Homo sapiens: one gene and its partner. The protein of the gene in region 2 purifies or fractionates together with the protein of the main gene of each other region. This does not show direct contact. Each region holds a gene or a part of one and is shown on either strand. Other genes may lie near its edges.

What was found.
Region 1: the proteins of SLC24A2 (region 2) and GPAT4 purify together in Homo sapiens (affinity purification with mass spectrometry; one large-scale study listed by BioGRID and IntAct). This does not show direct contact.

The regions. Positions count from the first base shown.
Region 1 is NC_000008.11:41,609,199-41,612,699, forward strand, and holds part of GPAT4 (glycerol-3-phosphate acyltransferase 4 isoform 1 precursor), read left to right. Parts: intron 1-217; coding exon 218-287; intron 288-456; coding exon 457-757; intron 758-763; exon of another isoform or gene 764-1,423; intron 1,424-1,537; coding exon 1,538-1,612; intron 1,613-2,704; coding exon 2,705-2,794; intron 2,795-2,981; coding exon 2,982-3,075; intron 3,076-3,501. UniProt on the Homo sapiens protein: Converts glycerol-3-phosphate to 1-acyl-sn-glycerol-3-phosphate (lysophosphatidic acid or LPA) by incorporating an acyl moiety at the sn-1 position of the glycerol backbone. Active against both saturated and unsaturated long-chain fatty acyl-CoAs.
Region 2 is NC_000009.12:19,782,538-19,786,038, forward strand, and holds part of SLC24A2 (sodium/potassium/calcium exchanger 2), read right to left. Parts: coding exon 3,400-3,501; intron 1-3,399. UniProt on the Homo sapiens protein: Calcium, potassium:sodium antiporter that transports 1 Ca(2+) and 1 K(+) in exchange for 4 Na(+). Required for learming and memory by regulating neuronal Ca(2+), which is essential for the development of synaptic plasticity.

The DNA of each region.
Region 1 (3,501 bases), on a different chromosome or scaffold from region 2:
AGTGTTTTGCTATAGGTGACTTAACTCTTGGTCCCAGTTGTCAAGGAAGGGGCTGCTCTGGGGAGAGGTGGTTTGAGTTTCCTTCTAGACTATGTGCTTCTTGGCTACGGTCTTAGGTGACTGGGACTGAGGCTTTCACAGAATAGAGATGGAGGTGTTCACTGATTGAAAACAGGTCTCATTCTTGCTCTTGTATCTTGCTTCCTTCCCCTCCCAGTGGGCTACCTTGAGAATGGAGCGAGGAGCCAAGGAGAAGAACCACCAGCTTTACAAGCCCTACACCAACGGTAAGATGGGGGTGTGATCCTTGTCCTGAGAGGTCCATTTGAACAGTGTTCCCCAGTGCTTCTGGTGCCACACACGCTCTTCCCTGCATTAGTGCAGGATGTGTGCTCTGAGTATGTCTCACGTGCTCTCCCCCAGCGTGCTGCTTGACAGGGACACATTCTTTTGCAGGAATCATTGCAAAGGATCCCACTTCACTAGAAGAAGAGATCAAAGAGATTCGTCGAAGTGGTAGTAGTAAGGCTCTGGACAACACTCCAGAGTTCGAGCTCTCTGACATTTTCTACTTTTGCCGGAAAGGAATGGAGACCATTATGGATGATGAGGTGACAAAGAGATTCTCAGCAGAAGAACTGGAGTCCTGGAACCTGCTGAGCAGAACCAATTATAACTTCCAGTACATCAGCCTTCGGCTCACGGTCCTGTGGGGGTTAGGAGTGCTGATTCGGTACTGCTTTCTGCTGCCGCTCAGGTGAGGCAGGGCCTGCGGGAGTGGGGCTCGCTGCTGCCACCCCACGTGGTGCACAGCCCACCTGCCTGCTCTGCTGTGTATTCCCGTTTTAGAAAGGAGGAGGGAATGACTGTCGTTAGCCAGGCCACGTGACTCTTTGGAGGGATACACTGGTGATTCTCCTTTAGAGGCCCTTGGATTCTCTGCATATCAGACAGAAATAGTTGGATTTCTTAAAGACAGCTTGCTTCTCTAGATGACAGCAAACACAGGGACAGGGAACATTGTGTGCTTTCTGCCACTCCTTCCTGGACATGGCTCATTCTTTCCTGAAGCTTGCCTCTCAGGTACAGGGGCAGTATTGATCTTTCAGCTTCTCTGCACCATGTGCTGCTCTGAGTGTGCCTTGCCAGATGCTAATACCTTCAAGCTCCACCTCCTGTTGCTTCAGAGGGAAGCTGTGCTTCCACCGGGGTTTCCAGCCAAAGGGAAGGGGAGGGCAGCAGGGAGCAGCCCTGTGGCAGAATGGCCAGCTTAGGGTTTTCCAGCCTTCCAGCTGCCTGAGGCCTCAGGAGATGCAGGCAGCTGAGAGCCAGACCCATGGCTCACTGTCAGCTGGAATCAAAAGGATCTCTGGTTCTGATAGGCCTGCTTACATTTCTAGGTGAACTCTGGTCCAGGTCCCAGGTGAGCAGGTCTTGGGGGTGGTTTTTGTGATGCCCCCTTTGATTTTCACACCTTCAGTTCTGTACTTGGTAGAATGATTTGCTGGCTGTGCTCTAACTTTTCTTCTTCTTACAGGATAGCACTGGCTTTCACAGGGATTAGCCTTCTGGTGGTGGGCACAACTGTGGTGGGATACTTGCCAAATGGGAGGTGAGTAGAGTGTGGCAGTCCATGCCTGAAGGACAGTTAGTTCTGGGAATGGTGCTCAGATATCGAAGGCAAGGACACTTCTTTGGACACAACCAAAGCCATGGAATCTTAGATGGATTAAATAACCCAGTGGTGGCCAGGCACGGTGGCTCATGCCTGTAATCCCAGCACTTTGGGAGGCTGAGGTGGGTGGATCACCTGAGGTCAGGAGTTTGAGACCAGCCTGGCCAGCATGGCGAAACCTGTCTCTACTAAAAATACAAAAGTTAGCCAGGCACGGTGGCGGGTGCCTGTAATCCCAGCTACTTGGGAAGCTGAGGCAGGAGAATCCTTGAATCCAGGGGGCAGAGGTTGCAGTGAGCCAACATCACACCACTGCACTCCAGCCTAGGCAACAGAGCGAGACTCCATCTCAAATAATAATAACAACCCAATGGCAACAACGGCATCAGCAGTAAAGTCTTTACTTTTTTTAAATTTTGATCTATGACTGTTCTTTTTGTCCTTCAGCCCTCACATTCTTCCCATTTTGAAGACAAAAGGGAGGAGCCACAGACATGTAGAGTCCGAGACTCAGATGTTAACAGATTTTACAGCTTGTTGTTTAGTTTTGAGCATTTGACTGTGTGGATAAAGTGATGAGACAATACAGTTTTTAAAATGGTTTGAAATGTAGGGAGGTTTTGTCTGTTTGTGTGAAGAATATTTTGCTCCCTTTGGGAAGTTCTGGGGTTTAGAAACCTTTCTTCTGCCTGGGCGGGTGAGGAGGTTGGCCTCTGGCCTTGGACCTGCCTCTGGATGTTGACTGGGGGAACGGAGTTCAGCCCGCCTGTGGTCTGCGGATGCCGGATTCTAGGCTGTGAATTCTCCACCCACTGATTTGGGTGGATGTAAGTGAGTCTCCCTGTCCCCTCTTTCTCTCCTCATGTGTGAACATAAAGGTGCTCATGCATCACAGGACTTTCCTGTAGGTGCTGATGTCTATACAAGCACTTTGCTGTTATAAAGGACTGCTGAGCTGTTGAAGTCAGTAACTCTTTCTGTCTTCCTGTATGTAAAATAAAACCCAGAATCCTTGTCCTGTTATTGCAGGTTTAAGGAGTTCATGAGTAAACATGTTCACTTAATGTGTTACCGGATCTGCGTGCGAGCGCTGACAGCCATCATCACCTACCATGACAGGTGAGAGCGCTTTGTATTGATAGGAAGGGAGATGGCGCTGCAGGAAACACCACCCACCTATACTTAGCCAAATGGGAAGACACTTCTGAGCTTTTAGTTAGAGCAGATGAAGCATGTGAGGTGAGAGGTGTGTTACATGAACTGTTTCACACTAATTTTGGTTGCTTTGCATACATTTTAAACCCAGGGAAAACAGACCAAGAAATGGTGGCATCTGTGTGGCCAATCATACCTCACCGATCGATGTGATCATCTTGGCCAGCGATGGCTATTATGCCATGGTAAGAGCTCTTTCCGGTGCGTTCTTGAGGCAAGACTTCCTGCTTTAGAGTGGTCAGGGCTAGGAGGCTCCTGGACCCTTCACATAAACACATTTATGCGTGGGCCAGGCCCCCACCTTACTGTCACTGTGGGGGCTCTGTGGGACTGTGATAGGAGATACCCTGGGCAGAGTGATTGGTGAGTGTGGCTGGAGAGGATGCCAAGGGCAGTCAGGCAGACCAGCAGGGGCAGAGGGAGTTGCTGGCAAGGACTGTGTCCAGGGCATCTGAGAATCTGCCCAGGGAGGGGCAGTTTTACACAGGGAATTGCGCTACTTTAGTATTTTAGTATTTTGTCTTAGGGGTTTCAGTTATGTTTTTAATTACCTATTTCTAGTATTACTGATTAAAAGGAGAAGTTTAAGATTTGGGGAGTCTTGGTAGTGG
Region 2 (3,501 bases):
ATTATAATACAGCAAATATTATATAACCCTAAGGGGTATGACGGACTGCTTAACTCAAGGATTCACTGGAGCAAGTTCAGTCTTCAAGGAATGTTTTATAACTCTTGAATCTAAAATAATTTATTCCAACTCATTTTTCACTTAAGAATGAAACATAAAAGGAAGGCATTAACATTCATTGAAAACAACCCACATTTTCCAAGGATCATGCTAGATGCTTAACATTCATTTCTTCATTTAATAATTTTACCAATCTTATGAAGTAGGTATCATTATTCTCATTTTCCAATTAGGAAACTGAGGCTTAGAGAGTTAAAATGACTTCTCTGAAATCACTGGGCTTATTACACAACCAGGCTAAAGACTCTTTCCTTTTTGAGTTAAAGCCCCAGGGTCTCTTCACTGTGTCATGATGGTATATAACTTTTTAAAAAGGGTAGTAGCATCACTAAAAGAAATAACAATAATAAAAATAAGAACCACACACAAGGTAGAGAAATTTAAATGAGATGAGAAACTGTTGCTTTAACTATGAAAAATAATGCCAGTTCATGTTTTTCCATGCTTCACAGTTACCCTATGATGTACATCATCAACAATGGAACCAAATTAAGATTTTATATTTGCCTATGAAGCAAGTAGTTTCAAGGATATTCACTGCCTAGAGCCCAGCAGAGTTGACTTTTTTGCAAGAACCATTTGATGATTTGTATAAGAATATCTAAAATGTGATTCCTCTACCTTCCCAAACTCCCATGTCCCATAATTTTGCAAACAGGACAATGAAGTGACTTTGCATGAAAACATGCTTAGTATTTTGCTTCCTAAATTCTTGTACAGCACATTCCTCTCTAGGAAGACTCCACTGAAGGCCGCATTTGGCTTAAAGTCTTTTTTTCCTAGATGTTTTGGTGATGTCAGAAGCATTAATTTCTGTAAGAAAGGTAAGCTACACAGTCAGAATTCAACTCTGCAGCCAGGTGACTAGATGACCACACTCCAGGATTCATCCCCATTTCAGGATGAATCAAATTACATTAAAATCACATTCAGAGATGTGATTATGTTCAGTGCCTGGGGGGGAAAACCTCCCTAAGTTTCTGCAATCAGGCATATGATAAAGGCTGTAATTACAGAAAAAATTCCAGCAATAATTCAAAAGTGAAATTGGCAAGTGGTATTTCCTAAAGGAAATCACACATCCTTATGCACGTTCCACTTAAAAACGTGTGACTGTGCTCTGGCATTTTTTTGAGAAGTACAAAATAAGACATAGCTTTGTTTAGAAAAAAATCTCTACTTCCATTAGTTAACCAATGTCAAAAGAAACATTAATGACTAACTGGAATAAATTAAAGCTATTTGGTGCTAAATGGAAAACAATACAATGAACACATTTTGGGGGGAAATCAGAAACAGAAATAGTTATGAATATAACCTGCTTTCTTTTTCAATCAAGTAAATCTAGAATTCCCAAATTTTAGAACACACAATATTAAGTATAGCACAAAATTATGGATGCAAATAACAAGGGTTAAGGGATGACAACCTGAATTTCTGACCTTAAAATAATCATAAAAATGACATAAGTCACCTAATTGAGTAGGTAAAGATCATTCCAGGGCTACTTTAATGAATGGTTTATAATTGACTAAATACAGTCTATAAACCTATATTTGGAAAGCTATTTCTAAAACGCATGAAAGCATCTTCCACTCCACTAAACCATCTTCCACCCCACTAAAATCAGAATACAAAATCCTTCCGCAATCCTACATATACCATTGGATTGCTCTGCAGATTCATTTTTCATAAATGTTGCCAATATAACATTCAGCCAAGTCTCTAAGTTAATGAAGTTCCACTAGGGTGTAAGAAAACAAGAAAGTACTGAGTTCTCAAAGAGACTTTTCAGCATTGATGCACCCAAGAAATTTATAAGACATCGAATCATTTCCTTGCCTCTAAAAAATAAGCATTTCCTTGACAATCGTTCAGTACTTTAATTGGAATAAACACAAGACTATCAATGTACACCACCCAAACGGACTCGAGGAGAGCACTTGAGGGATCACCTTTTTGGCTGCTAAGTTAGAGTAGGGGAGAACTTCCAATGATGGTCCTATTTTATGCCCTGAAGGAGATGTACTCAGTTGTCACATCTGAATGCTTGTTTGCCGTATATTTTGCTAAATGATTTTTTGGTTTTACTATAGTTTCTAACAAACAAGCATACGAGAGAAATGTTAGAAAATATGTAGTACAAGTAGAAATATTGCTAGTGTTTTATCCTGCCCTTTGCTTCCATTTCATGGCTGCAATGAAAAGGACGGTCATCAAACTTGGCTATAAAAGAATTATGCAAATTTAACCATATTAATATCATTTTTCTTTTCTTTTTGAACAAAATCTTTCACCCCCTGCTCAAATATCTGTTTTTTGCATATATGAGAATTTTCCCAGATGCTGGCATGAAAAGTCTATGTAGGTATTTTGGCTTTCTGTTTAAAATCACATTCAGAGATGATATTCCACTGCTAGGATATAAATCAGAACTCCATTACAATACCACATACGATTGTATTGATGCCATTTGTCCACTATTTAAAAAAATAATTTAGGTGTTTGCAGGAATTACTTCTAAGCTCTTTACCAATCTGCTTTCCACTCACCTAAGTGGTAGGATGGCCACGATTGTTATTAAAACTCCCTCAAATTCTACTCTAAAAATAGTTGAAGTCATGTTTATTATGGTGTGCAAAGTGGGTCATTGTGATGCAGAGGCAGATGGCAGGGCTGGCCAATGATTCTCTTTACAATGGATGCTGATCAGTTCCTGGTCAAGTGACCTAAGACATGATTGTGTCAATCAAGAAAAACAGCCATGACAACAATAATGACAAGCCCTGCTGGGCTAGGCTGCTGACTGGAAGGTACAGCTACGGTGACACAAACTTTCTTCCTCAGACATCTCTAAAGAGATGGTTCTTTCTTGGTAATTGCCATGTGTTCATTTAAAAAGAAAAGGCCTTGCAACTTTCTAGGCACATACACACTTTCCTATGAAAATTAAATTGTTCACAAAATCATTATGCCCACTTTCAGAAAATAAGAGACAAATAACTGCTGAATTGGCTTTGGGAGGCTTATGTAACCTATATTTACAAGTGTTTTACTCTGAAGCAAGTAGCTGAGGAACTTAGTAAACATCTGCAAGAATACCCCAAAATTATTTTTTCCACTGCTATGTTAGTCTAGCTATCACAGAACTGCAGAATCAATCTGCTATCCACAAGAGCCCCAAACACCATCACATCAAAAGAACTGCAGATCTCAAAAACATAATAATTCAGAACCGTAGTCAAGAAAAGCATTAAATAAAAATCCACCACCACCAACCTTTGCTTGGGCTTCTGGTGCTGTCACCTTGACGACCTTATTGCGGTTTATCATTTGCTTCACCCATTTTTCTACTTGGACGTTGAATTTCATGAAAACCAC